Linked DNA regions of Homo sapiens: regions 1, 2, 3 and 4 are each linked to region 5. Evidence: fine-mapped expression QTL. A gene starts in region 5. Each other region holds a variant in brackets. All regions are shown on one strand. Distances are between the middles of the regions.

Region 1 (5,105 bases), 120 kb before region 5:
GCATGTGCAAGGACCTCTCCAGTTAAGGACTGCAGGGGGACATGGCGGTAGCCCGTCTGTAAACATTCAAAGGGAATTGTGTACTGGCCGATGAATTCATCCCCAATGTAGTCATCATCCAGCACTACAAAGCGCACCATGGCCAGTTCAGGCAGGTTGATTTGAAATTCAAAGCTTTCATCAAAAATGGGAGCGTCTCCATTCTGGTGCACTGTTTTTGTCCTTTGTTCTGCACAATCAGCAGGGATTCCATGGATTTCAACATAGACATAAGGATCTACCACATCACCTTTGGCACCTGATCCTTTGGGCTTGGGAAAGTTCTGCCCACTGATGATTTTAATGTGAAGAAGTTGAGGTGAGACCCCTGGGACAGAGTCTTTTGTATTGGCGCTGAAGAAGGAGACCTCCTCCCTCATGATGGCTGGCCGGAGGACATAGCCACAGTTTCCGTTCTGCCTAAACCAGCCAATATTCAGGTCCATCATCAGTCCTGGTGTCTGAAAGTTCATGGCTACAATTTGGCAACCACATTTCCAAAAATCTTGAGGATTCATGTTACTGGAATCAATTCTCATTGGACTGGGAAAAACCCTAGCAAGAAAACGTTTGTTGTAATTTACAAAGTCCCCTGGATTTTCATTGGCGTACTTGCTGGCAAGCACTTCATTAAAGGAACAGACTTCCCAGTACTTCTGAACCTGAAACGACACCTGAAATTCTTTGAACTGAACTGATTTGCAGATGCTGACCAGTTCAGACAGTTCTTTACAAAGCTGAAATCGCTTCACAGGCACATTATTGGGTTGCTCCATGTTCTCTTTTCCCATCCTCTGAGACATTTCTGCTCCTTCATCTTCGTCAGTAACATCTCCTTCTACCCCAGAGCAATTTGAGGACAGCTTCTTTGCTTTAATTAGTATTTTCCCTTTCAGGACATCTGGGGATGGTAGATAAGATTCCTCAACATTGGGTGATGTTGTATAGAGCTTGTCTCCTAAAAGTTTCTTCATGTGCTGAACCATTACCTTCTGTTGTTTAATGGAACAGTGGTTTTCTAAACACAAGATAAGAGGATACTCTGAAGCAAAGAATGCATACTTGTTAATAATATCAATGACACTGCGGAAAACTATCTGAGAGGTCATGGTGTGGCCTGTGTAAATTACAGGTTCATTGTCCGGCCCATCCCATACATCTAATTCAACACTCCGGCAACCCATTTTAAGAGCTCGAATATATCCTGTGATGTCGGAGGGACCTCGGAACTGATCCTCTATTAAGTATGTATTATGAGATGAGTTTATAAAGTAATGAGACAGAGGTTGCTTCATATCCTGACAGACCTTCTTATGTTCTGGATCGAATATATAACAGTCAGGTGACATAAGGTAATTAGTGAACCCGTCTATGGAGAGCCAGCCCTTTTCCTGACCCTCTTTGGATGGTTCATATTTGTGAATAATTTCAAGGCTTATTTCCTCATTTATATGTGCCACACCCTGTTCTGCCTCAAGAAACATCATAAGGTCCTTGGTATCAAGGAATTCTTTATTGCTTGAAAACTGAACTAAAAGGAAATAAATTTCAGGTCTAGTACAAAGCTCATGAAAAACCTCAATAAATTCTTCCTTTGTGACCTCGGTACCAGCTTTGTCCTTTGATTTATGCAATTCTTTGAACTTAAGCTCAATTTTGCTCGTTTTTAAACCAGGATTGAGGTTTCTGATACATTGCACAGCATTACACAGAGTTATATGTCCAAGGTTATCTACATCAATTTCACTAAACATTTGTGAAACCCAAGAAGTCCTCATGTTATCTTGGCTACTTTCTAACATATCAAGTGTATGTTTTCCATAAGAAATTAGGTACCGCAGTCCTGTAACCCAGATGTTTGCAACATCTGCGGAGTTGGCAACCAAATCCAGTGACTCATAATTCTCTCCATATATGACGGAAAACGCACAATCTTCAGATATCTGGTCAGAAATGCCATTGCTGCGGAATATGTCTGTGTTTTTTCCTGTTCTCACTTCCTTGATGGATTTAATGTCAATCTTGGCTTTCTCAGAATCCTTCTTAGATGGCTCCCACCTTAGGCTCTGCATGTCAGCATCCAGTA[A/G]AAAGTACCTATGATAAATTCTAGAGTTGGAGCGAACCTTTTTGAGTTCTGAACCCTCAACCATTGAATTAATACAATCACTTGCACTGCTGATCTTCTTCTCTGTTGGCATGCTGCTGAATGAGACTGTCTTTTTCCGTTCCCTCTTCTGTTTTGTACCATCCTGAGAGGAAAAAAAGACCGTATATTAGAATAACATAAATATAGGTTTCTATGTTCAAGATTATGAATAGAAATTTAATTTCCTAGAAAAAAATCATACTATTAAGATTTCCTATTCTAGATTCCTGTGATGAATGATACTCATTCATCTCTAAAGCTCAGAATTGGCCTTGCAGTTGACAGCCTAATACCAACAGGTATGAAATCATTATTGAATAATTGCAATTCATATTTATCAAGAAGAACAATTTCAGGCCAGGGACGGAGGTTCACACCTATAAACTCAGCACTTTGGGAGGCTAAGGCAGGAGGATTGCTTGAGGTGAGGAGTTTGAGACCAACCTGGGTAATACAGTGAGATCCCATCTCTACAAAAAAAAATTTTTTTTGGCCGGGCATGGTGGCTCATGCCTGTAATCCCAGCACTTTGGGAGGCCAAGAAGGGGCAGATCACCCAAGGTCAGAAGTTTGAGACCAGCCTGGCCAACGTGCTGAAACCCTGTCTCTACTAAAAATACAAAAATTAGCCGGGCATGGTGGCGGGTGCCTGTAATCCCACCTACTCGGGAGGCTGAGGCAGGAGAATCGTTTGAATCCGTGAGGCAAAGGTTGCAGTGAGCTGAGATTGTGTCACTGCACTCCAGCCTGGGCAACAGAGTGAGAATCCGTCTCAAAAAAAAAAAAAATTAATTAGCCAGATATGGTGGCTCATGCCTGTAGTCCTAGCTATTCAGGGGGCTGAGATGGGAAGATTGCTTGAGCCCAGGAGATTGAGGCTGCAATGAGCTATGATCTTGCCACAGCACTCCAATGTGGACAACAGAACAAGATCCTGTCTCAAAAAATAGAAAGAAAGAAACAATTTTCAGAGCCCAGAGAAAAGTGAAAATGCAGGATTCCCTGATTAAAAATTATTAAGAATTTCAAGGTGACAGAGGAGCTAAGTGAAGCCCAGGGCTCTTCTGAGTCAGTGTGAAGCCTGTGCAACTGTACAGGTCATACACCATGAAACAGGCCCTGTTTCTACGTACGCCTCCTACACCAATACTTCTCAAAGGCTTGTCACCAGACCACCTGCCTCAGAATCATCTGGGTTACCTGGTTACAATGCAGATTGCTAGGCCCATGGAACCAGCTCCCTGGGGCTGGTGCCCAGGAATTTACATCAAGGTAGCACTCCATGTGACGGAGGATGTACACTAAAGTTTAAAAACCATTTCCTGACTACTTGGGCTAAGACGTCTAGACTATTTCTGGAAACTATTTGCACCAAATGATGAGAAACAGCTAAGTAGAAACCAATTAAGTAACTGTTAAATGGGAATTCCAGCAGAAATTCCTCTCTCCAAAGTCTCATACTAGATCAGTCATCAGTATACATCAGATAGACATGTAAGTCTGAGATGAAGGGCTAGATTATAGCTGTTGGAGCTCCTAAAATCGTAGAGTTGGATTTATTAAAACCTATTACTATGCCCCAATGCTCAGAACAATGTCACCTTGTACCTTAATATTAATAGATTATTAAAAGGACTAAGTTTAAAACTTCAGGCAGCACTTATTTCTAAAGAAGTTAGCATCACCAGTAAGGCACTGTTCAACTTTCCTGCTTAAGGTAACATGTTCTCATCTTAAGGGGCTGACATCCACATCTGTGTGTGTATTTAAGTCCTTCCTTGTATGGAGACCTTTATTATTTGAAAAGAGTGCTCAAATTACCTCAAAAGATCTTTCACAATTTTAAACCTAAAAGATGATACTGCCTTTCAGTATGTGTATAAAATCTATGACAAATTTTCAGTATTCATTGTATTTATAAATAAGAAATAGGGATGGGAGTTGGAATTATATCACTTTCATGACAAAGAAAAGAACATTGTTGAATATTATCCAAAGGCAATTCTAATTTTCCTGCTCTGGATAGAAAATATCTGTATTTTAAAAAGCTATTATGCTATACTCTATCTCTGAAATTTAAAACCACTTTTACTTTCTAACTACCTATACTTCCAAAAGCAATTTGCAGAAGGTAATTAAACTTAAACTTTAAATCATATGGGTATCATTTTCCTCAAAGTTTCAAAATGAACCATAGAAGCTTTTGTGATCTGGGTGCCAAGACAAAACATAAAAGCCACAAGGTAGAATATTTCTTTACAATTATATCCTCAGAACAATAAAGTGCAAAATACATAAAAACTGTGGTAATTGTATCTGTAAGATACATTATATTAAAGCCATTTCAAATCCCTAAAGCATAGATTGTATTACATCAATTTGAGTGAGTTAGCATGAAATTAGTTTTGTAATCAGCCATGCATAAGGACATGAAACAAATGTATAATTTTCTATTTTTCAGAATGACGTCTTTAGTTTTTTTTTCCCAGTAGAGACGGGGTTTCACCATGTTAGCCAGGATGGTCTCGATCTCCTGACCTCGTGATCCGTCTGCGTCAGCCTCCCAAAGTGCTAGGATTACAGGTGTGAGCCACCACGCCTGACCGATGTCTTTAGTTTTTAAAAGACGCATTTACCTTTGATAAAGACAACATACTGACTCAGTTAGGGAATTTTATAATCTTTATATATCGTGTCTCAAAGATGACACTAGTAGAACAATTACAAAAATATATGGATGTGGTTTATCCACTGATCCATTAAGAAATATATAGTATTTTCCCAACATTGTAATCTTTTATTCTTTCATTTTTACAGGCTGATTAATATTCTGTTACACTTTCTAATTTGTTATAAATGATACATTTCAGATAAACAGGTTTCTTTTTTATTAAGAGGGAAAAGGCCTAATAGCAAAGTA
Region 2 (5,105 bases), 63 kb after region 5:
CTGAAACCTTGATGAGGGGGTGGTAGCATCTGTGGTTTGAAGCACAGATTACCCAAGTTCCTTTGTTAGTGTACCTGGCATTTTTTCATAAGCCTCCATGTTTCCCCTCGGCTTGGTATCTTATTTAGTAAGCACGCTACTGAACACATCTGTTCTCACAATAGGAATTAGAATCAAAAGGCTTCCTCGGTGATTCTGGAATTTGTCACCAGAAAAAGAAGAAAGTTCATTGACCAAAGGTAGTCATTGCACACCTGCAACCTGAAACATCATGGAAGCTCTTGTACTCCAGCCACCAGGCTGTGGGGCTCGCCCTGAGAGGCCTGGGCCACCAGCTACAACTATTCCCTTTCTGCCCTGAGCTGTCAGGATTTCTGCCAATGATTCCACTTGTATGAGCTATCTATAATAAACTCACAGAAGCATAGAATACAATAGTGGTTTCCAGGGGTTGGGGACTGGGAAAGTGGAGAGTTGTTGTTCGATGGGTGTAAAATTTTAGTTCTGCTCGATGATTAAGTTCTAGGGATCTATTGCACAGCATAGCGCCTATAATTTACAATACTGTATTAGACACTTCAAATTTTGATAAGAGGGAAGATCTCATGTTAAATGTTCTTAACACACACACACACACACACACACACCCCAAAAACAAAAGGACACAAGGGAACTTTGGGAGGTGATGGATGTGACTATTATTTTGATCACAGTGATGGTATCACGGGTTTTTGCATATGTCTAAACTCATCAAATTCTGCACATTACATATCTGTAATTCTTTGCATACCACTTATACTTCAGTAAAACTATTAAAAATATTTCTGGCATTGTAAAAAAAAATAACAACAACCATAATTGTAGCTACCACTTGCATAGGGATAACTATCCTAAGGCCTAACTGCTCTCCGTTAACTAGCAGGTCCAATCCTCTTAACAACCCTATGAGGTAAGTAGCTTCATTTTCCAAACGAGGAAACTGAGACACAGAGAAGTTAAGTGACATGCCTAAAGTCACACAGCTAGAAAATGACAGAGCTTGGAATTGGGCAGCCAGTTCAGTTCTGGCTGCACTGCCCTCCCAGAAAGTGCCTAGCCTGGCACAACAAACCTTTTGTTAGGTTATATGGTCAGGGACTCTATTTCAAAAGCTCCCTTTTTTAAATAAACCCCCAATAAGCACCACCCTTCTGCCACCTCCCTCTCAACTCTTCCTCAAGTTAGAACATCTAAGCTACTTCCCAGGAGGTCCCTCAGCTGCCCTCATCCTACACTGCCTTCTTCTACTCATAGTTCCTCTTCAATGTTTCAGAGAACCAGGGTTCTCCTATATCCCAAGATGAATTTTAAATCACTCTTCCCATCAGTCCTCCTTGGAGAAGCAACATCTCCCATCATCTGTATATTCCATTTCGCTCTGTCCTTCTCTGGTGCCCACAAAACTGCAGGCATCTCATGGAGCAGAGCACAGGCTCAGGGCCAGGCTATCTAGGTTTGAATCCTGGACCCAGACTTTCTCATTGTGTGATTTTAAGCAAGTCACTTAACTACTCTGTATCATCTGTAACTTGGGAATAATAAGAATACCCATTCAGCGGAATTGCTATGAAGATTTAGTAAGTTAATGCAATCAAAGGCTTAGGACAGCGCCAGGCGCACAGTAAGTGCTCTAAATGCCACTGTTATGATTTGTATCTCCTCTACTTGAATACATGTCAATTGGCCCCATTGCTCTGTGAAGTTACTTCCCCACTTCCTTCTTTGATCTTAGTGACCAGGTCACTCTCCAACTCAAAATCCTTCAATGGCTCCCCATTGTTTACCCAATAAGATGAGATCACATTAGCTTGGGCTTCAAGGCCTGCCTCTTCCTATATGTGGATTGCTTCCTCCCTCCTTTCCTGCCTGACCCATCCATACCCACCCTTCAAGGCCCAGTTTCCATGATATCTCATACAAAAAAACCTTCTATGATCACCCCCTCAGAAATCCCTGCTTCCTTTTTGGAGCCCATACTTCTGTCCTGCATGGTTCCACCTCACTGTCCTGCACATCTCAAGAACAACCATCTATTATGTGCTTGTTTCCTTGTCTAGCATCCACTAACTGTCTTCTTCTCCCCCTAGTGCTACTTCTACAGCCAGACTGTATTGAGTGTTCAATAGGTGCTAAGTGTTGAGGTACATCCATCATCTCAGCCAATTCCTGTGAAAACCATGAGAATCATTATCCACATTTTACAGATGAGCTAGCTTCATAATTTACAAAAAGTCACACAGTTAGTAAATGACAGAGCCCAGACTTGAATCCAGGTCTGGCTGACTGCAAAGCTTGTACCTTAGCCACCATGCTACACAGCTGCTTCTCTGACTTTGTATCTTCCCCAGCCCTAATTTTAAAAGAAAACTGTGCTGCTGAGCACTTCGGCAGGTACTTAGGAACAATAATAATGAAATACGGATAATAATAACAGCTAATTTGAGTGCTTACTATGTGCCAGGTAACTTTCAAAGCACTTTACTTCTATTAACAAATGCAATCCTCACAACAAGCATTTGAAGTAG[T/G]TACAATTATTATTCCCACTTTATAGATGAGGCACAAAAGGGTTAAATAACTTGCTCAGGGTCACACGCTACAAGTGGCAGAGCTGGGATGCAAACTCAGGAAGTCTAGCCTCAGAGTCCAGGCTTGTAACTGTCATGCTGTCTCCCAGCATGTCTATTTTGAATGAATAAATGAATGAATGAATTTAAGGGGAAGGATAAAGAAAAAGAATCACATCATTGGAAATGGGGATTTAATGAATTTGTACTTTGTAGAGACCCCCTAAACCAGATAACAGGAGCTGAACTGTGACACTCAGCCACATATCCTCTTCCGTGGATGGGCAGGTCAGAAGATAAGGGCAAAGTACCAGGGAACTTGGAAGGGAGCAAGAGCCATCCAGGCAGGACCTGGTGGCACCTCCCTGCTGCCTCCATCCACAATGCCATGGAGACTCACTGAAGTGACGCTGGGCTCTTGGCTTCTCCAGTGTGAAAATCCAGACGGGACTGCACACCTGCTGCCCAGCTCGGCCTCTGTGTCAGGAACACCAGCCCTGGGTGCCATGGAGAATCTTGTGAGCATGGGCTAGTGTGCCCACATAGGCAAGTGTCCATGCAACCTCCAGGAACCTGCCCAAGGCATTTGCAGTCAAAATGACCACTTGGCAGGGAGGGGCTAGCTAAACACTTCTCTTGGGCTTCATTCAGGAATGGAGCAAATCTGCACATGAAGAGATTGAAAGAATAAACAGAAGCCCCTGCTTTCCTATCCTAGTGCTGATTCTGGATTCTTTAACTGAAACAAATACTCATAGTTCCGGTTATCTTACTGACACCCATGAAAACTGCTTGCTTTGCTGATGTTAAAGCATCTTGTCCTTTCCTTATCAGAATACTTATGTCTTGTCACTGTCATTGTTCTTTTAATGGTCATTTACTGGCAAATAATTAGTAAGCTCCCTAAGAACAAGAATCATGCCTGCTTGCTCATCTCTGTGTGCCCAGGGCTTACCTGCAGATATTCAAACATCTGCTGAGTAAATTCATGAGCAAAAATGAGTAAGTGATCATGTCAACTGATGTCAACAGACCAGCTCACTGATATCCAGGTTTTCTCTCTGAAATTCTTGGTTCCCCTAGTGGCTAGGTGGGATTATATGACTTGTTCTGACCAATGGGTTGTTAATGAAGATGACATGTCATTTCTGATCTGGGGCACCAATTGGTGGTTCAAGACCCACAGAACTTTCTTTACCTCTGCCAGAGTGATTGACAATTTTCCAGATGGTGGGTTCTTTCTCAACCTAGGTCCTGCATTGGACATGTAATATGACTGAGAAATAGACCTTTGTTGTTTGAAGCCACCAAGGTTTGGAAGTTGTTACTGCAGCAAAACTTAGGCTATCCTGACTAATAGATATTCAGTTTAGACAAGATTTTCAGGGATCTACAGAACAGAAGAGCCTGAGGAAATTATCGTCTAGAACAGCTCATAAGACCTTTCTGCAATGTTGGAAATGTTCTCCTAAAGAACTCCATAATGAAAGCTGCTAATCCATTACTTTTTAAAAATATTTTAAAATTTGACAAACTATGCAATAATGGTTTGTCTTGCCACATTTCTTTGCCTGCCTCTATGATAAGTAAGAGTGTTTGGGACTGGCCATCAAAGGCAGACCACAAGATCAGTCATAGAATGCACACACTGCTTTCTGCATTAAAATGAAAATGAAGAATGGAGATTATCCTTATTAATTGCCATCTGAAACACAAATCTCAGTTTTTTATCAGCTGTGAGGAAAAGAGACAATTCAATATCAATGCAATATTTAGAGACCAAGCTGAACATTCCAAGGCATCAAATTGTGTTGCTTCCAGCCTGTGATTTAAAAAATATATCATAATAATAATGCATTTAGTCAAACTGCTGTCTCCTAGCCCCCATGCAGGAGGAGGCTATCTCTTGAAACTCATGCACTAATTTGCCATGTAAATCTCCCCACTCACTAGGCTTGACTTTAACAGAGAACACTGTGGTGAAGAGGAAGGCCTGCAGAGGCAGCTGGCTTTATGGTTAGCTGGCTTTCCCTGGTTAGGAAAAGCTTCCATGAATATAGTTATTATGTAATTCATATGTGCTATTTAAGGGCCCATGGCATCTTGTCACTGCCATTGGTATACAAATATGTATTTTTATGGAAACCATCAATTAATGAGGGTCCTGGGTGGCCAGGCTGTGTACTAGGTTTTATGTACAGAATCTCACTGAATCCTGAGAGGCAGGGATTATTGAAGTCGTTTTTGTAAGTGAGGAAAACAGACTCAGAGACCAAAAAAGTGCTGGTATTCAGACCCATCTCAACTTAATCCAAAATTTCATGCATTTTTCTCTCTTTTTTTAAATATGATGTTTAGGATATGTGGCACCCCCATCTTTGGACAAAACAGGAGGAAAGCAAAAGCAAGCTTTTGTGTTGAGCAGAAGGGTTCAGGAAGAAGCATGAGGGAGGAGAATGAACCCTGAATTAGGAGGCAGAAAATATGGGTTCAACTTCAGTG
Region 3 (5,105 bases), 170 kb before region 5:
CCAGTCTTTAAGAGAAAAGATGCTGTGGATTTCAAATGGGGCCTGGGAGTCTGATGCAGGTTTCCTGTGTCTCATCTTCAAAGTGTTAACTTTCCTCCTTGAAAGTAATGATGATGGGCTACAATTTATGTGTCCTGTAACATTGTATGGGATGACTTGTTTAATCTTTTAATCTTTTTCAGTAACTGTAATCCAGCCATTCCCAAATTGCTGTTTATGTAACTGATCTTAGTTCACTGTAATTTAGAAGGCATAGGGCCATCAGGGAATCACATAATCCACTGCCACTTAGAAGAAGGAAAATGAGGCAGAGAGGGTCAAGTGACTAAACTAAAGTCACACAGCAGGGACATGGTACAGAGGGCACCAGAACATGGGTCTCTCAATTCCCAGGAAAGAACCTTTCACTTCTGTAAAACAGAGCTGAGAAACATTCTGACATAAATGAGAACTGATACGATTTGGATCTGTGTCTCCATCCAAATCTCATGTTGAAATATAATCCCCAGTGCTGGAGGTGGGTCCTGGTGGGAGGTAATTGGATCATGGGGGTAGCATTCTCATAAATGGTTTAGCACCATCCCCCCTTGGTAGTATATAGTAAGTTCTCAAGAGATCTGGTTGTTTAAAAATGTATGGCACCTCCCCACTCTCTTTCTCCTGCTTGGGCCATGTGAAGATGACTGCTCCTGCTTTGCCTTCCACCATGACTGTAAGTTTCCTGAAGCCTCATAAAACAGAAACTGATACTGAGAAGCAGGGCATTGCTTGAAGATGTGAAAGCAGCTTTGGAACTGGTAATGGGCAAAAGTTGGAACAGTTTGGAGAGCTCAGAAAAAGACAGGAAGATGAGGGAAAGTTTGGAACTTCCTAGAGACTTGTTAAATTGTTGTGACCAAAATACTGATAGTGACATGGACAATGAAGTCCAGGCTCAGGAGGTCTCAGATGGAAATGAGGAACTTATTGGGAACTGGAGTAGAGGTCACTTTTGCTATGCTTTAGCAAAGAGCCTGGCTGCACTGTATCCCTGCTCTAGGGATCTGTGGAACCTTGAACTTGAGAGTGATGATTTAGGATATCTGGCAGAAGAAATTCCTAAGCAGCAAAGTGTTCAAGATGTAGCCTGGCTGCTTCTAACAACCTATGCTCATATGCACAGGAAGAGAAATGACCTGAAACTGGAATTTATATTTAACAGGGAAACAGAGCATAAAAGTTGGAAAAATTTGCAGCCTGGCCATGTGGTAGAAAAGAAAAGCCCATTTTCAGAGGAGGAATTCAAGCAGGCTGCAGAAATTTTATAACTAAAAGGCAAATACTAATAGTCAGGACAATGGGGAAAAGGCCTGAAAAGTATTTCAGAGACCTTCCTGACAGCCCCTCCTATCACAGACCTGAGGCCTAGGCAGGAAGAATGGTTTCATGGACCAGGTCCAGGGCCCAGCTGCTCTGTACAGCCCCTGGACACTGCTCCCTGTAGTCCCTTTCTTTTGGCTGATTTCTCCCTTTCGAAACGGGATTATTTACTCAATCCCTATATCCCCATTGTAACTTGGAAGTAAGTAACTTGTTCTGATTTTACAGGCTTATAGGTGGAAGGGACTTGCCTTGTTCAGATCAAACTTTGGACTTTTGAGTTAATGCTGGAATGAGTTAAGACTTTGGGGGATTATTGGGAAGGGATGATTGTATTTTGAAATGTGAGAAGGACATGAGATCTGGGAGGGGCCAGGGCAGAATAAATGGTTTGAATCTGTGTCTCCACCCAAATCTAATGTTGAAACATAACCCCCAGTGCTAGAGGTGGGGCCTGGTGGGAGGTGACTGAATCATGGGGCAGAGTTCTCATGAATGGTTCAACACCATCCCCCCTTTTGAGTTCTCATGAGATCTGGTTGTTTAAAAGAGCGCATCACCTCCTCCAACCCTCCTGCTCCAGCCATGTAAGATGGGCCTGCTTCTCCTTCACCTTCTGCCATGATTGTAAGTTTCCTGAGACCTACACAGAAGCTGAGAAGATGCCAGCATCATGCTTCCTGTACAGCCTGTGGAACCATGAGCCAATTAAGCATGAGCCCATTTCTTTCTAAATTACCCAGTCTCAGTTATTTCTTTATAGCAGTACGAGAACAGACTAATACAAAACAAAAAGTTATAAGGCTCTCAGGTTTCCATTTGCAAATATAATTGACCCTTCAACAACAGGGGTGTTAGGGGCATTGACTCTGCATGCAGTCAAAAATCTGCATGTAACTTTTGACTCCCCAAAAAGTTTACTAATAATAGCCTACTTTGGACCTGATGGATGCTTTACTGGTAACATAAACAGTTGATTAACACATATTTTGTATATGATATGTATTATGTACTATATTCTTACAATAAGGTAAGATAAAGAAAAGAAAACATTAAGAAAATCACGAGGAAGAGAAAATGTATTTACTATTTATCACGTGGAAGTGGATCATCACAAAGGTCTTCATCCTCATCATCTTCTAGCAGAGTAGGCTAAGGAGAAGGAAGGAGAGAAGGGGTTGGTCTTGCTGTCTCAGAGGTGGCAGAGGCAGAAGAGGTGGAGGAGGCAGAAGGAAAGGCAGGGGAGGCAGGCACACTCAGTGTAACTTTACAGCAATGCATTGCAATTTCTGTCTTTTTTGCTTTTTCACTTCTCTAAAAATGCTTCCATACAGTACCAGTACTTCTTCCACTTTTTGCTTTAGTTTCAGTGCCAGTATCATCAGGAGGATCTTTGTCATAAAAGAAGTCATAAGCAGTCTTGAATAATAGGAACCCTTCTTCCAGATTGTCTGATATCAATTTGTTTGGGGGCACTGCTTCTTCTACATATTCTTCATTGTCTGGCACTGGTTTGGAAGCACTCATCTCCGTCAAGTTATCTTCTGTTAATTCCTCTGGTGTGGTGTCCATGAGCTCTTGATTTTCTCCAAAATCCATAACCTGAGACCTTCACCCCCCCCCAATTTTTTTTTTTTTTTTT[G/TG]CCATATTCACAATCTATTTCATGATTTCTTTCAGCAGCTCTGTTATAAATCGTGTGAACATCTGGACGGTTTTCTCCAGCAGGAATTTATTGTTTTGGACTCGATGACTTTCATGGATTTTTCTGTAGCAACAATGGTATCTTCAACAGGATTTTGAATCCTTCTAAACATGTATGATGTCCTCTCTATTGGGGGTTCTCTTCCACAGCATTAATAATCCTTTCCATATAGCATCCTCTGTAATGAGCCTTAAAGGTACTTATGACCCTTTAATCTACATGCTGACTTGGAGACATTGTGCTTGGGGGAAAAGAGACCATTTCATGGCTTTCAGTGTTGAACTCATGGGGTTCTGGGTGACCAAGGGCATTGTCCAATATCAAAAGAAAATTAAAAGGCATTCCCTTACTGGCAAGGTACTTCCTGACTTCAGGAACAAAGCATCATGAAACTAATATAGAAGAAGCTCTTGTTGTTCAGGCCTCCATGTTGTACAACCAAAAGACTGGCAGCTGGTGTTTATCTTTCCCCTTTAAGGCTTGGGCATTAGCAGCTTTATAGATGGGGGCAGTCCTGACCATAAACCTGACTGCATCTGCACAAAACAGTAGAGTTAGCCTATCCTTTCCTGCCCTAAATCCTGCTGTTTGCTTCTCTTCCTTACTAACAATTCTCCACTGTGACTTTTTTTTCCCCCCAGAACAGGGTACTTTCAGCTTCATTAAACACCTGTTCAGGCAGATATCCTTTCTCCTCAATGGTTTTTTTAAATTTTATTTTTATTTTAAATTTTTATAGGTGCATAGCAGGTATATATACTTATGGGGTACGTGACATGTTTTGATACAGGCATGTAATGCATAATAATGGAAAATGGAATATCTATCCACTTAATAAGCATTTATCATTTGTGTTACAAACAATCCTATAATACTCTTCATTGTTTTAAAATGTACAATAAAATTATTAATGACTACAGCACCCCTGTTGCGCTATCAAATACTAGGTCTTACTCGTTCTTCCTAACTTTTATTTTTTGGTACGCATTAACCATCCCCACCTCCCCCGCCCTGACCTCCCATTGCCTTTCCCAGCCTCGGGTAACCATCTTTCCATTCTCTATCTCCATTAAGTTCAATTGTTTTGATTTTTAGATTCCAAAAATAATTGGGAACATGTGATGTTTGTCTTTCTGTGCTTGGCTTATTCCACTTAACATAATGACTTCCAGTTCCATCCATGTTGCAAATGATAGGATCTCATTCTTTTCCATGGCTGAATAGCACTCCATTGTGTATAAGTATCACACACAATATCCATTCAACTGTTGGTAGATGCTTAGGTTGCTTCCACATCTTGGCTAGTGTGAACAATGCTGCAAAAAACATGGGAGTGCAGGTATCTCTTTGATATACTGATTTCCTTTCTTTTGGGTATACATGCAGCAGTGGGATTGCTCGATCATATGGTAGCTCTATTTTTAGTTTTTTTGAGGAACCTTCAAACTGCTCTCCATAATGGTTGTACTAATTTACATTCCCACCAACAATGTATGAGGGTTCCCTTTTCTCCACAGCCTCGCCAGAATTTGTTATTGACTGACTTTTGGATAAAAGCCATTTTAACTGCAGTGAGATGATATCTCATTTAGTTTTGATTTGCATTTGTCTGAGGATCAATGATATTGAGCACCTTTTCATATGCCTGTTTTTCATTTGTATGTCTTCTTTTGAGAAATTCCTATTAAACATTTTGCCCATTTTAAAATTGGATTATTAGACTTTTTTTCCTACAGAGTTGTTTGAGCTCCTTATATACTCGGGTTATTAATTCCTTGTCCCATTCAGTGTGTTATTTCTCCATTTTGTTGTTTGTTTCCTTTACTGTGTGGAAGCCTTTTAACTTGATGTGATCCCATTTGTTCATTTTTGCTTTGGTTGCCTGTGCTTGTAGGGTATTACTCAAGAAATCGTTGCCTAATCCAATGCCTGGAAAGTTTCCCCAATGTTTTCTTGCAGTAGTTTCACAGTTTGATGTCACAGATTTAAATTTTGATTTGATTTCTGTATAAGGAGAGAGATAGGGGTCCAGTTTCATTCTTCT
Region 4 (5,105 bases), 200 kb before region 5:
AATTCTCCTTACTGCTTCCCTGCCTTGCTTTTTCCATAACACCTATTGCCATACTCTACTGCTTGGTTTATTGTCTGTCTCTTCCACTAAATGTAAACTTCACGAGGGCAGGAATTTTTGTCTTCTGATCACTGCTGTATCCTCAGAGCCTAGAACAGTGCCAGGTACAGAGTAAGGGCTCCATAACCATCTGTTGAATGCAATTAAAGTATTGTAATTAAAGTAAAATGTGAAAGTCTCCCCTTTAATCTCACAGCTGCCCCCTAAACAATGAGTTTTGTCTTTTTCTTGGCATTATATATATATTACAAATAGGTATTTTATTTTACTTTTAATGTAAATACAATCAAGCAATCTATATTGTTCTTTGGTTTCCTTTTTTCTTCACGAAAAGTTATGTCTTAGTGATCTTTCCGTGTCAGCATATATAGATCTACCACATGATGACAGGGTATTTAAAAACAAAAATCCCCAGATGGCATATGATAATTAATGTGGTAATAACAGAATTCTTCATCTGGTTGAATCTTATGTTTCTCAACTTCAGAGAAGTAATCATGGTATCTTAAACAGAATAGGCCTTTGGACATTACCAAGGCGAGACACAAAGGACTCCCAAAGGCAATAAATCTGGGCTTGAGGAGCTGCTGAACTTTGTCCACATCACTTTCATTTTGTTCTATGTGTCTAAGACTACATGTTTAAGATGTCTTGGAGGTAAGGCATGTAGCATGAGTGAAGAACAATTCTGGCCAGGCGCGGTGGCTCATGCCTGTAATCCCAGCACTTTGGGAGGCCGAGGCGGGCGGATCACCTCAGGTCAGGAGTACACGGTGAAACCTCGTCTCTACTAAAAATACAAAAAAAAAAAATTAGCTGGCATGGTGGCGGGTGCCTGTAAACCCAGCTACTTGGGAGGCTGAGGCACAAGAATTGCTTGAACCCAGGAGGCAAAGGTTGCAGTGAGCTGAGACCACACCATTGCACTCCAGCCGGGGCAACAAGAACAAAACTCTGTCTCAAAAAAAAAAAAAAAAAAAAACTCTGAAAGAGGTGGGGGTGTTTGTTGTAGCAGTGTTCATATTTCATTGCTTCAAAAGACTTGAAAAGAGCAAAGGTTACTTAAAACACTGCCACCCACTGACACAGGGTGTCTGGTTTTGAAGACTCCTTCCACAAAGCTGGCTTTGCAATGTTTTCAGTTGAACAACTCAAATGTCATTTGATTTCGCACATTCTGGTTTGAATTTTTTTAACTTATTCTATTTTGTTTTCATCTTGAAAGAGTTATAACAACCTTAGGTCAAAATATTTAAGGTTCTTACTTAGGCCCAGAAAGTAATCTTTAAAAGATGTAACTAAGGGCAGTGGCTGGATCCCAGCAGCTCTTGCTGCGAGTCTGGCGTGACTGTGCTTTTTCTGGCTGAGCCTGTGGCTTACCTGGGATTGGATCAGAGGCCAGAGCAGCCAGGAAAAGAATGATGGCAGCTCCAAATGCCAGAACCGCACCCCAGCTGTGCTCAACCCTCGGCTAATCACCATACTTTCTGTATGACCACAAAAGATGTTCTAGTTTTTAATATATTAAAAATATTTCAAGACACATCTGTTAGTGCTACATTTTAGGAGCCATTTAACAATCACAAGTCATTGCTTTTATTCAGACGTAGGGGCAAAACAACAGGGATTCTACATCTGGCTAATTTTTTCAAAGTCCTTTTGTCCAACTATCTATTAGAGAAAAACAGTTGTCTTACTTCTGAGGTGAGGGATCCAGTGCGGCAGCTAAGACTTCCCCTGCCCTCTGCCACCTGTGTAATGGCCACATGCTTGGATGTTGAAGACAGCAAAGATTAGCACCTTCCATTCCCTGGGGGCCAGCAGACACTTTTCTTCCAAATCACATGCAGTGTGAGGGAGGAGAAGGAGGAGGGTACTCATACCATTATGGGAGTCTGAGGCACAAAAATACTCCTCCTTCCTGTCTTTCTTATCTATTTGGGAATGCAGAGAGGAACACAGCAGAATTTAGATACCTTCACTGATACCACCTGCTCCACAAAGAGGGGATGCAAGGGAAGTGCTATTACCATTCTCGTTTCATAAAAAGGACACTGAGTTTAGAGAGATTACGGGTAGAGTCTGAACAGCAAATCACACTGAAACACACACACCTTTCTCTCTGGTATGTTTGTTTTATTTTCCTGTTGGATAAACTAAACTGTGAGGCCACAACTATAGAGAGTTGAACCCCACAGACTGCATGCAATATTTTAAAGCAAGCAGGTTGAAACACACACTACATTTTTCATGTATCCAGCACATCAACAACTGTGTAGACAATTCACTCTTCCTGTGATTAAAAGCAGAAACAGAAATATGGATTTCCACTGTGTGTTTGTTGAATGAGGAATGAGTGAACAAAAGAATGAAACGGGTGTGGTGGCTCACACCTGTAATCCCAGCACTTTGGGAGGCCGAGGTGGGCGGATCACCTGAGGTCAGGAGTTCAAGACCAGCCTGGCCAACATGGTGAAATCCTGTCTCTACTAAAAATACAAAAATTAGCCAGGCATGGTGGCGGGCGACTGTAATCCCAGCTACTCGGGAGGCTGAGGCAGGAGAATCACTTGAACCCGGGAGGTGGAGGTTGCAGTGAGCCAAGATCACACCACTGCACTCCAGCCTGGGGGACAGAGAAAGACTCCGTCTGGAAAAAAAAAGAAGAATGAATGGATTGTA[G/A]GAGTCTTGGCTACGGATTCTAAATCGCCTCTCATTATTATACATTGATAGTTCCCCTTTCAAGAGTTCTTTTGAGGCTGGCTGAGATCGTGGCACATTCATCAGAATTAAGGAAGGCCTCCTAGCTTGGTCAGGTCCACTTCCCACTGAAGTCTCAGTAAACCTTACGGTTGAAAAAAGACTCCCTAATCATCAGTCACCTAAACCTACAGCAACAGGACACAGGCTTTTGTACAGGACGTTAGGCTCATTTTAAGAGTGCGTGATGTTTTCTGTCCTTTTGGCTTCCTGTATGTGCACTCACACGTTTGATGGGCATGGAACATGAGCTGCAAATCAGCTTGTCTCCCCACAGCAGGAAGACCGCCTTCCCTCCACCCTGACCTCCACCCCAAAGGGTGCAAAGAAGCTGCCAGAGGGGGATGAAGGGTTCTGTGCAGGAGCGGAAAGGAGAGCCCTCTAAGCACAGCTCCTGCCCTTGGTTTTTGCTGGATCCAAAGAGATGTTTCTGTGGTTCGAGGCAGTGTCTTGATGATGAAGGGATAGTGGGCTGCATGGATCTGACTTTCCATGTGGCTCCCTTTGCCTGCCACACTTTTTGCCTATATTTGGGCTGTCATCACATTCACAGTTAGTCTCCAATTTTCCCATGGTTGTGCTCAGAGGTTTGTACAAAAGTTAATAATTTTAAATATGATTCAATTTTTTAAATTCAGAATGAATGCCTTCATCCTTAGAAACAATTTTACTTTTCCTTCACCAAAGACGGAGGGTTGGGGGCTCCTCGGCAGCACCACGGAGGAGGCGGTGTCTGAATTGGGGAAACTCAGGGCAGGAAAGGACGGCGGCAGGCCCAGGGGCTGATGCTGCCTGCCACAGAGGAGTGACCGTGACTCCAACATATGGCACCTCTGGAGCCCAACCATTTAGCAGCATGATTTCTATGCTACAAAGCTTTCTAGGTTCTGACTGACTACATCTCCCTCTGCTACAGACCTGGCCATGGGAAGGGCTAAATTCCACCATGCAGTAGGACAGTGGCCTCGTCTGGCACAGAGCTGGCCACTCTGGTGGCAGAGGTAGGGTTAGCATTCAGGAGCAGCCTTTGGAGTCTCCAGACAGTGGAGGTGAGCCATGACCTAAGCACAGAAGGTGGGGTGTCAGGAGAGGGTTCCAGGCAGGGACCAGGGCCAGAGGGGAGGGGAGGGTGGCCCAGCTGTGTAGAGAGAGGATGCAGAGAGCGAGGGGACACTGAGAGGCAAGTGGGGCTGGGCCATGGGCGTGAGAGCCCTTGGAAACACCAGGGAAAATAGCATGCACGTAAGCACCTCCTTCGCGCTATTAATCTTTCAAGCACACCATTTACACAGTCAAACATTAGCTGAGTAATCACAAACTCCACATGAGTGGGGTCCCAATGTTTGAGGTTTTACTGTATTTCAAATGGACCAGAAAGAACAGCCTGCCTAATGACAAACGCTACTATAGTTTGATTTTCTGAGCCATTCTGAGAAATTTTCACACACTAAATAGAGAAATGGCTTTCAGTCAATTATAGCTTTTCAGGAAAAGAGACAACATACTATACTACCTATAATAAATAAAAATAACTAAAAGATATGAGCCTCAATAAAAGGAGTCATACATCAACCATCATGGTAATTTCAAAAAGGAAACAAATGCCAGTCTTTAAGTCTTCAAGATAAGCACTGTACCTCAGGTAAAAATGAAGAAAATCAAGACAAATGTCTACCAGGTGCAAAAACCATCTGGTTTATTGATTTATGTTTTGGCAGAAGTTTTAGGTTCCTAAAGAGAATGAATCTCTAATTACTTTTAGGGTTTATTGATAGCCTTGTTTCTGATGGTAGAGGGGCACAGGTCAGGAGAGCTAGCCTGGCAGCCATTCATCTGGAAAACATCTTCGGTTGTAACAAGCTTAATTCAAGTCCAAGATACGATATAGATGCTATAAAAAAAAAAAGCCCAGCCATCCCAGCCACCCCAGATGAGATCCAGCCATGTGAGTACCTTCTTCGATGTTCCAGGCCAAGCTGAGTTCCCAGCAGAACAAATCTCTTAAGTGATCCCAGCTAATATCACATGGAGCAGCAAAACCATCTGGCTGAGCCCAGCTAACCCAAGAATCACGAGAAATGAGAAGTCATTGTTTCAAGCCACTAGTTTTGCAGTGGTTTGTTATACAGCAATAGATAACCGAAACAGCCACTAAAGGGAGCCATATTTTGTGCTGACAATACCTTCCTGGACAAAGTGGATTAAAGCAGGGGGAGAACCTGATCCAAGGACACTTAATACAAGAGGAGGTTTATCGGGACCACTGGTCTGCAGCTAAAAGGCTA
Region 5 (5,105 bases):
CTGGCACTTTATATCTAGGGTTACACTGGTGAACAAGAAGCCAAATGCTTTCTTTACAAAGAAGAAAAATGACAAAATATCCTTAAAAGTTTCAGAATTCAACATAAGTATCAATATCATTTCTAAAATCAGTGATTTTTGAACATTAATCATTTCCCCCATGTGCTTCTAGAGCCTTCAATTAAGAAATGGTATCTATTGACAAGTTCCCAATTCCATATATCAGAAATACTAACAAATCATCCTTCTTGCTTATCGCCCAGTAATGTAAAATTAAAACAAATGTTTTTGTAATTCAGTAAGTTACACTATGAATCTCACTATGGACACTAATAAAGTTTGATTTTTTAATGCAAAAACAAGTATTCAAAACAATTAAAAGAAAGGGGTTAAAATTAGGTAGGCTGGTATCTTCTTTGGAATTTTCACCTCAAATTTTATTAACACCACAATGCAAAATCACCACAAATATTTTATGACAAATAAAAACAGAAATGTCACCTAACTCTGTCAATAGGATTGATTATCATGCACAGTTGAAAGCAACTTCCATGGAAACATAAGCTACAGAGTAAAAGAAAACGTAAGTCACTAAAAGCTATGTATGCAGCAAAAAGACACTTTACTTTCCTTAGTTTATCTCTACGTGTGTGCTGCAGGTAGTTAATACACTTCATCTCCAAACCCTTCAAATTGTGTCCTTGCCCAGACATAAACTGCGCAAACAGATGACAAAGGGAAATGCAGTTTCACAATTGCCTCTTACATAGAGTAGCAAGATGGTATATTTCACTAGATTACTGCATAAGTTGATAACACCATCAGACATTTTCACAGTACTTGGAAGATTTCTGTAGGTCCAATAAAATTTCAGATACCACCACTGCCAACTCTCTTTACTGTGGCACGTTCTGCCCTCCCACCAGTTATCAGCCACAGGAAGGGTGGGTGCAGCCTGTCAATTTGCTTTGCTGCTCCCTGTCCTGATAACTCCTTGATTTTCAGAAAGCAATGTTTTCATTTGCTCCAAACTTGAGCGAGCCGAATGAGCTGGTCTTGCCTAAGGCTCTGCTCTTCTTAGCTCATCAACTATTTTTTTTTGCACTTCATGTCATGAAAAATATTTTTACATTGCGAACCAAAATGTAACATTAGAATGAAACTAACACAAACTCGGGAGTTCCTAATATTACTTCTTGAGTTTAAAATGCTCAAAACAATCGCTGGCTTTCTTCCGCTAACACTGTGCAAGCAAAACCAAGCAAACTGCCCAAAAGAACTTCCACAGTACTCGAGGCCTGCCTACTGCAGCAAGGAAAAAGATTAAATCGTGTGGAACTGTAATCTCTGAGCTTTTGAGCCTAAGAAAGCGGAAATCTGCATTTATGTTCAGAAATCTACTCTATTTTTCTTTGTGACTGAGTGACCGGATATTAGGAGATTTTGCACCCTCGAAGTGTAAACATTTGTAAGAGCCAACTAACTGTATACGGATCAGAAGAACCCTATTAAATAATCTCTGTTCACCCTCTGTTCGCCGCCTGGGATTTTTAAGAAAATGTTCTCACATTTCACATAATCCCTATCTGTGTTTAAGATACAATAGAAATCTTACAGGGAGTCTGTTAACCAGACTAGGCTACACATAAGAGTATGCCCTACCCCGGCAGGTACAAGGCCCTAATGCCAGACCAATCCTGGAAGAGGTGACAGCCCCAAGTTCAACTGAGGATGTCTGAGCACAGCTCCCCCTGCACATTAGGGATCACCTCTCCATTCTTTCCACATGCCATTTGCATCCAATCCCCGCTCAACCACCCCAAGCACCCATGCTCCAGTGGTTCCTGTTAGCAGTGGGCTTCCTCCTTCCACCACCACTCCCCCAGGGAGAAAATAGAATCCAAGGACGGCTGAGGGTGGGCGATGAGCGCCCTTCTCCCACCTACCTTGATGATGCTGCTCCGGCGGGGCAGGCCGCCCGGCTTGCTCTCCCGGGGGAGGGTACAGACGACCGCGCTGGGGGTCGGGGCGAGCGCAACGCCGCGGGGTCCCCTGGTAGGGCTAGCCCGGGCTTCGTCCCCGGACACGCCGAGGCTGCAGTCTCCGTTGGAAACCCCGCCGCTGTCATAGCGCGCCCGCCCGTGGCCGAGGCGACCTCCCCCGCCACCGCCTTCCCCCACTCCGGCTTTCAGGGCGCCCTTGGCGCCGAGGGCCGGGCCCGGGGAGGTGGGCAGGGCCCCGCCGGCGGCGCCCCCCCGGCCGCACTCCGCCATGGGCGCCCCGCGACCCGCCTGCACAAAGCCGCGTCCTCGCGTCCCCGCGTCCCCGCCGCCGCCTCGGGCCGCCGCGCGCGGCCCCTCCTCCTCTCCTCCCGCCGCCGCCTCGGCCGCTTCTTCCGCTTTTTTTTTTTTTTAATTTAGATGTGATGTTTGTTTCGAGCTCTCGCCTTGCGCACGGTTAAAGTCGCGGCGGCAGAATTATCGGAAGATTCCTGCAGGGGAAAGAAGAGAGAGACGAGTCAGCTCCGGCGCCGGCGGAGCCCCGGCTCTCGGCACCTGGGGAAGGAAAACACGCCCCAACACACGCGCCTCTGCGGGCGCCAAAAATAACCCGCGCGGGCCGGGCGCCCACCCCGGGGCAACCCGCGCCCACCTCAGGGGCCCCAGGCACCCACCCCGAGGTAACGGGGCGCCCACGTCAGGGGCTCGGGGCGCGCTTCCCCGGGGCTCAGAGCAACTGGGGTCGGAGCACCCGCCACGCAGGAAAAGGCGCCCACCTCCGGCGAAGGGCGAGGGGAAGTGGCGGCCGCCCCGACACTCTCTGGACACGCGGAGGCGGCTCCCGAGGATCTCCCGGCCCCGGGCGGGCGGGGGGCGACGCGTGGGTCTCTCCGGACCCTAACTCCCCAGAGGCTGCCGCGTGCCGAGCTCTGTCACGTCCCCTCAGAGCCCCGTTAAGGCCCGCGGCGCCGAGAGGAAGCCCACGGCGGGCAGGGGCGGCCGGGTATGACAATCGCCGTGCGGCCCCGGGGCAGCTCCCGGAGGGGGCAGCCCAGACCCACCCCACCCGCCGGCTGCTGTCTCCTCCCGAGCTCGGCGCTGCCCCCTACAGGCCGCGTGGTCCCTCCTCGGTCGCCCCCTGACCCACCATGAGCCGCCTAGCTCCCTGTCGAGATTGCCGCCGTCGCGGCTGCTGTCACCGAGGCCGGGTCATCGGGCCGCGGGGACCTCAAAGCCGAGTGGACGGGAGCCCCAAGTCATTGCCTATCCTTCGCCTCCCCAGAGCTGCTGCAACTGTCAGTCACCCACCCGGAACCCCGAGGGGCAACTACCAAGTAGGCCTCGGGGCCCGGAACAAGGGTCCCGGGGCTCAGGATCTCGGCCGCTGCGCCTCACTCCTGCCCCAGCCCCGCGCACGGAACTCGTTTCCTTCCCACCCAGTTCGGGACACTCCTCTCTGACTTCCCCAGTAGGTCAGACTCATTTCATACACTGGGACCAATTCCTTTCCCTTGGGCTCCTGATTGATTCAACTAGTTGGAAGGATGCTGAGGCAGGGGTGAAGGCTGGGGTGGCTGGCAGGCTATGAGGGGCAGAGGACATCAGCAGAGCCTATTTCGTGCCCTCTGAGTCTCCACACACAGATTTATCATTGAGACCTTCCCGATTCCCCTACCAGGGATGCCGGCTGGCCCTGCCGGCCTGCGGGGCCCAGCCTAAGTCAGGCTCATCTTTTGGGACAGGATCTCACTTGCAGCGCTACAGCCAGTCCCTCTTCTGGTTCTCACGCACCCACTTAAGGCGGAGTGACTGGCCTAAAAGTCCAAGCTGATCGTGTGGCTTCCGTTCGTAAATATCTCCCCTGGATCTCCCTCCCTGGAGCCAGACAAGACTCAAAACTCCGAAGGGTGAGACCCCAGACCTTCCACCGCCACCCCACGCCCCAGGCCTGGGCCCACCCACCTCTCCATCCCAGGCTCCGTGGGCTCCAGCTTCCTACCCTCTCTGGCACCCCAGCCCTTCCCCAACTCGTGTGCTTTCATTTCCAGGAATGCAGTCCCCGCAGGGCGCAAAGGAGAAACTAATAGTCCAGAGGCGGGGTGAACTTAAAGACCTGGCTTTCATTAGCGTGGTGTTGTAACAGACTGCCAAGGAGCCTCTGAGGAAATGGATTTACGTACATATACATACTCGCCCTTGCCCCTGAAGCAACATCAAATACTTTCATGTTATTCTTGGGGGCGTTTTAATTCTTCCGATCCTCTGAATTCGTGTTTTTGTACATCTCTTTCCAACCTGGGCCTACACACTAACAGAAATAGTTTTTTACATCGAAGGACAATGCTTAGTGTTTTATTCAGTCTCAGCTCTTTTCTTTCTTTTTTCTCGTTGTGTTTCAAAATGTTTATTTTTTCTGTCTTGTGATAGTTTTGGAGGAAAAATATTGAAATAATTCAAATCAGGCTCTTAACTCTGCTTTATTAAATTTATAGTCATAGTAGCCTGTGAGTATGCTTCGGGGGAGGAAAAAAGAATGCTGGGGTCTTTATTCTTCAAGTTCTCTAAGTTTGATATTTTGAATAAACACCCAGAGGTGTCTCTGCCTTTTGTGTGTTAGTATCTAATCTTTCCTGCATTTACGAGTCACTAGTAAAATGCTATGAAAGCCATAGATCCCATGGCTCTCACTGTGATTTTCCTGGGCTGAGTAGGGACTTAGTGATGTTTAACCCCCAGTATGCTTTTTATAGAAGCACCAGCTGATTCACCAGTGCCCTCCAAAGTGAGCACCTATCCATCTCACTCTGGACTCCCAACAGGTCATACCAGGGAGCTTCGTTGAAATAGACTTGGCATTTAAATTAAAATGTTTCCCAAAGCATCTTGGCAGACCTGTAACTAATGATGCCAGAGGCCCAAGGCCTGTGCCAGGTTCCCTTTTATTCCCATAAGTGCTTGTCTCCCACAAGCCACTGGTCACACGCCTGCTGATGTTATAGAAGCACTTCTTCATCCCACAAACAGCCCAACTGTAGGTACCCTATCTCAGACATGGTGAAGGGAAGCAGCATGTTCCTCTGACATGTGCGATGCTTGGCTCCCAAC

Evidence for each region. PIP is the estimated chance that this variant, and not a neighbour inherited with it, causes the effect. A credible set is the group of variants that fine-mapping cannot tell apart.
Region 1: its variant is the best candidate, but not a certain one, in a credible set for the expression of PLCL2 in nasal epithelium (TOPMed, PIP 0.78).
Region 2: its variant is the best candidate, but not a certain one, in a credible set for the expression of PLCL2 in esophagus muscle (GTEx, PIP 0.52).
Region 3: its variant is the best candidate, but not a certain one, in a credible set for the expression of PLCL2 in whole blood (INTERVAL, PIP 0.85).
Region 4: its variant is the best candidate, but not a certain one, in a credible set for the expression of PLCL2 in whole blood (TOPMed, PIP 0.50).

The regions. Positions count from the first base shown.
Region 1 is chr3:17,006,857-17,011,961 of GRCh38, reverse strand. PLCL2 (phospholipase C like 2) reads right to left here. Exons shown (of 6, transcript NM_001144382.2): 2 at 1-2,288. Among named protein-coding and RNA genes, the nearest start is that of PLCL2-AS1, 45 kb to the left of the region's middle. The variant A/G (reference allele first, on the strand shown) is at 2,126.
Region 2 is chr3:16,819,168-16,824,272 of GRCh38, reverse strand. No RefSeq gene overlaps it. Among named protein-coding and RNA genes, the nearest start is that of PLCL2, 63 kb to the left of the region's middle. RefSeq lists an enhancer at 3,497-3,676. The variant T/G (reference allele first, on the strand shown) is at 2,565.
Region 3 is chr3:17,050,133-17,055,237 of GRCh38, reverse strand. All of the region lies in intron 4 of PLCL2 (phospholipase C like 2), which reads right to left. PLCL2-AS1 (PLCL2 antisense RNA 1) reads left to right here and starts at 654. Exons shown (of 3, transcript NR_046640.1): 1 at 654-712. RefSeq lists an enhancer at 629-818. The variant G/TG (reference allele first, on the strand shown) is at 3,002.
Region 4 is chr3:17,078,077-17,083,181 of GRCh38, reverse strand. The region is part of intron 5 of PLCL2 (phospholipase C like 2); the gene reads right to left. Among named protein-coding and RNA genes, the nearest start is that of PLCL2-AS1, 26 kb to the right of the region's middle. The variant G/A (reference allele first, on the strand shown) is at 2,743.
Region 5 is chr3:16,882,208-16,887,312 of GRCh38, reverse strand. PLCL2 (phospholipase C like 2) reads right to left here and starts at 2,358. Exons shown (of 6, transcript NM_001144382.2): 1 at 1,947-2,358. The coding sequence starts at 2,273. It overlaps LOC105376972 (a long non-coding RNA gene), which reads left to right and starts at 2,971. Exons shown (of 3, transcript XR_002959616.2): 1 at 2,971-3,468; 2 at 3,743-3,907; 3 at 4,049-4,385. RefSeq lists enhancers at 1,508-2,007, 2,008-2,503, 3,506-4,214 and silencers at 1,996-2,325, 2,536-3,205.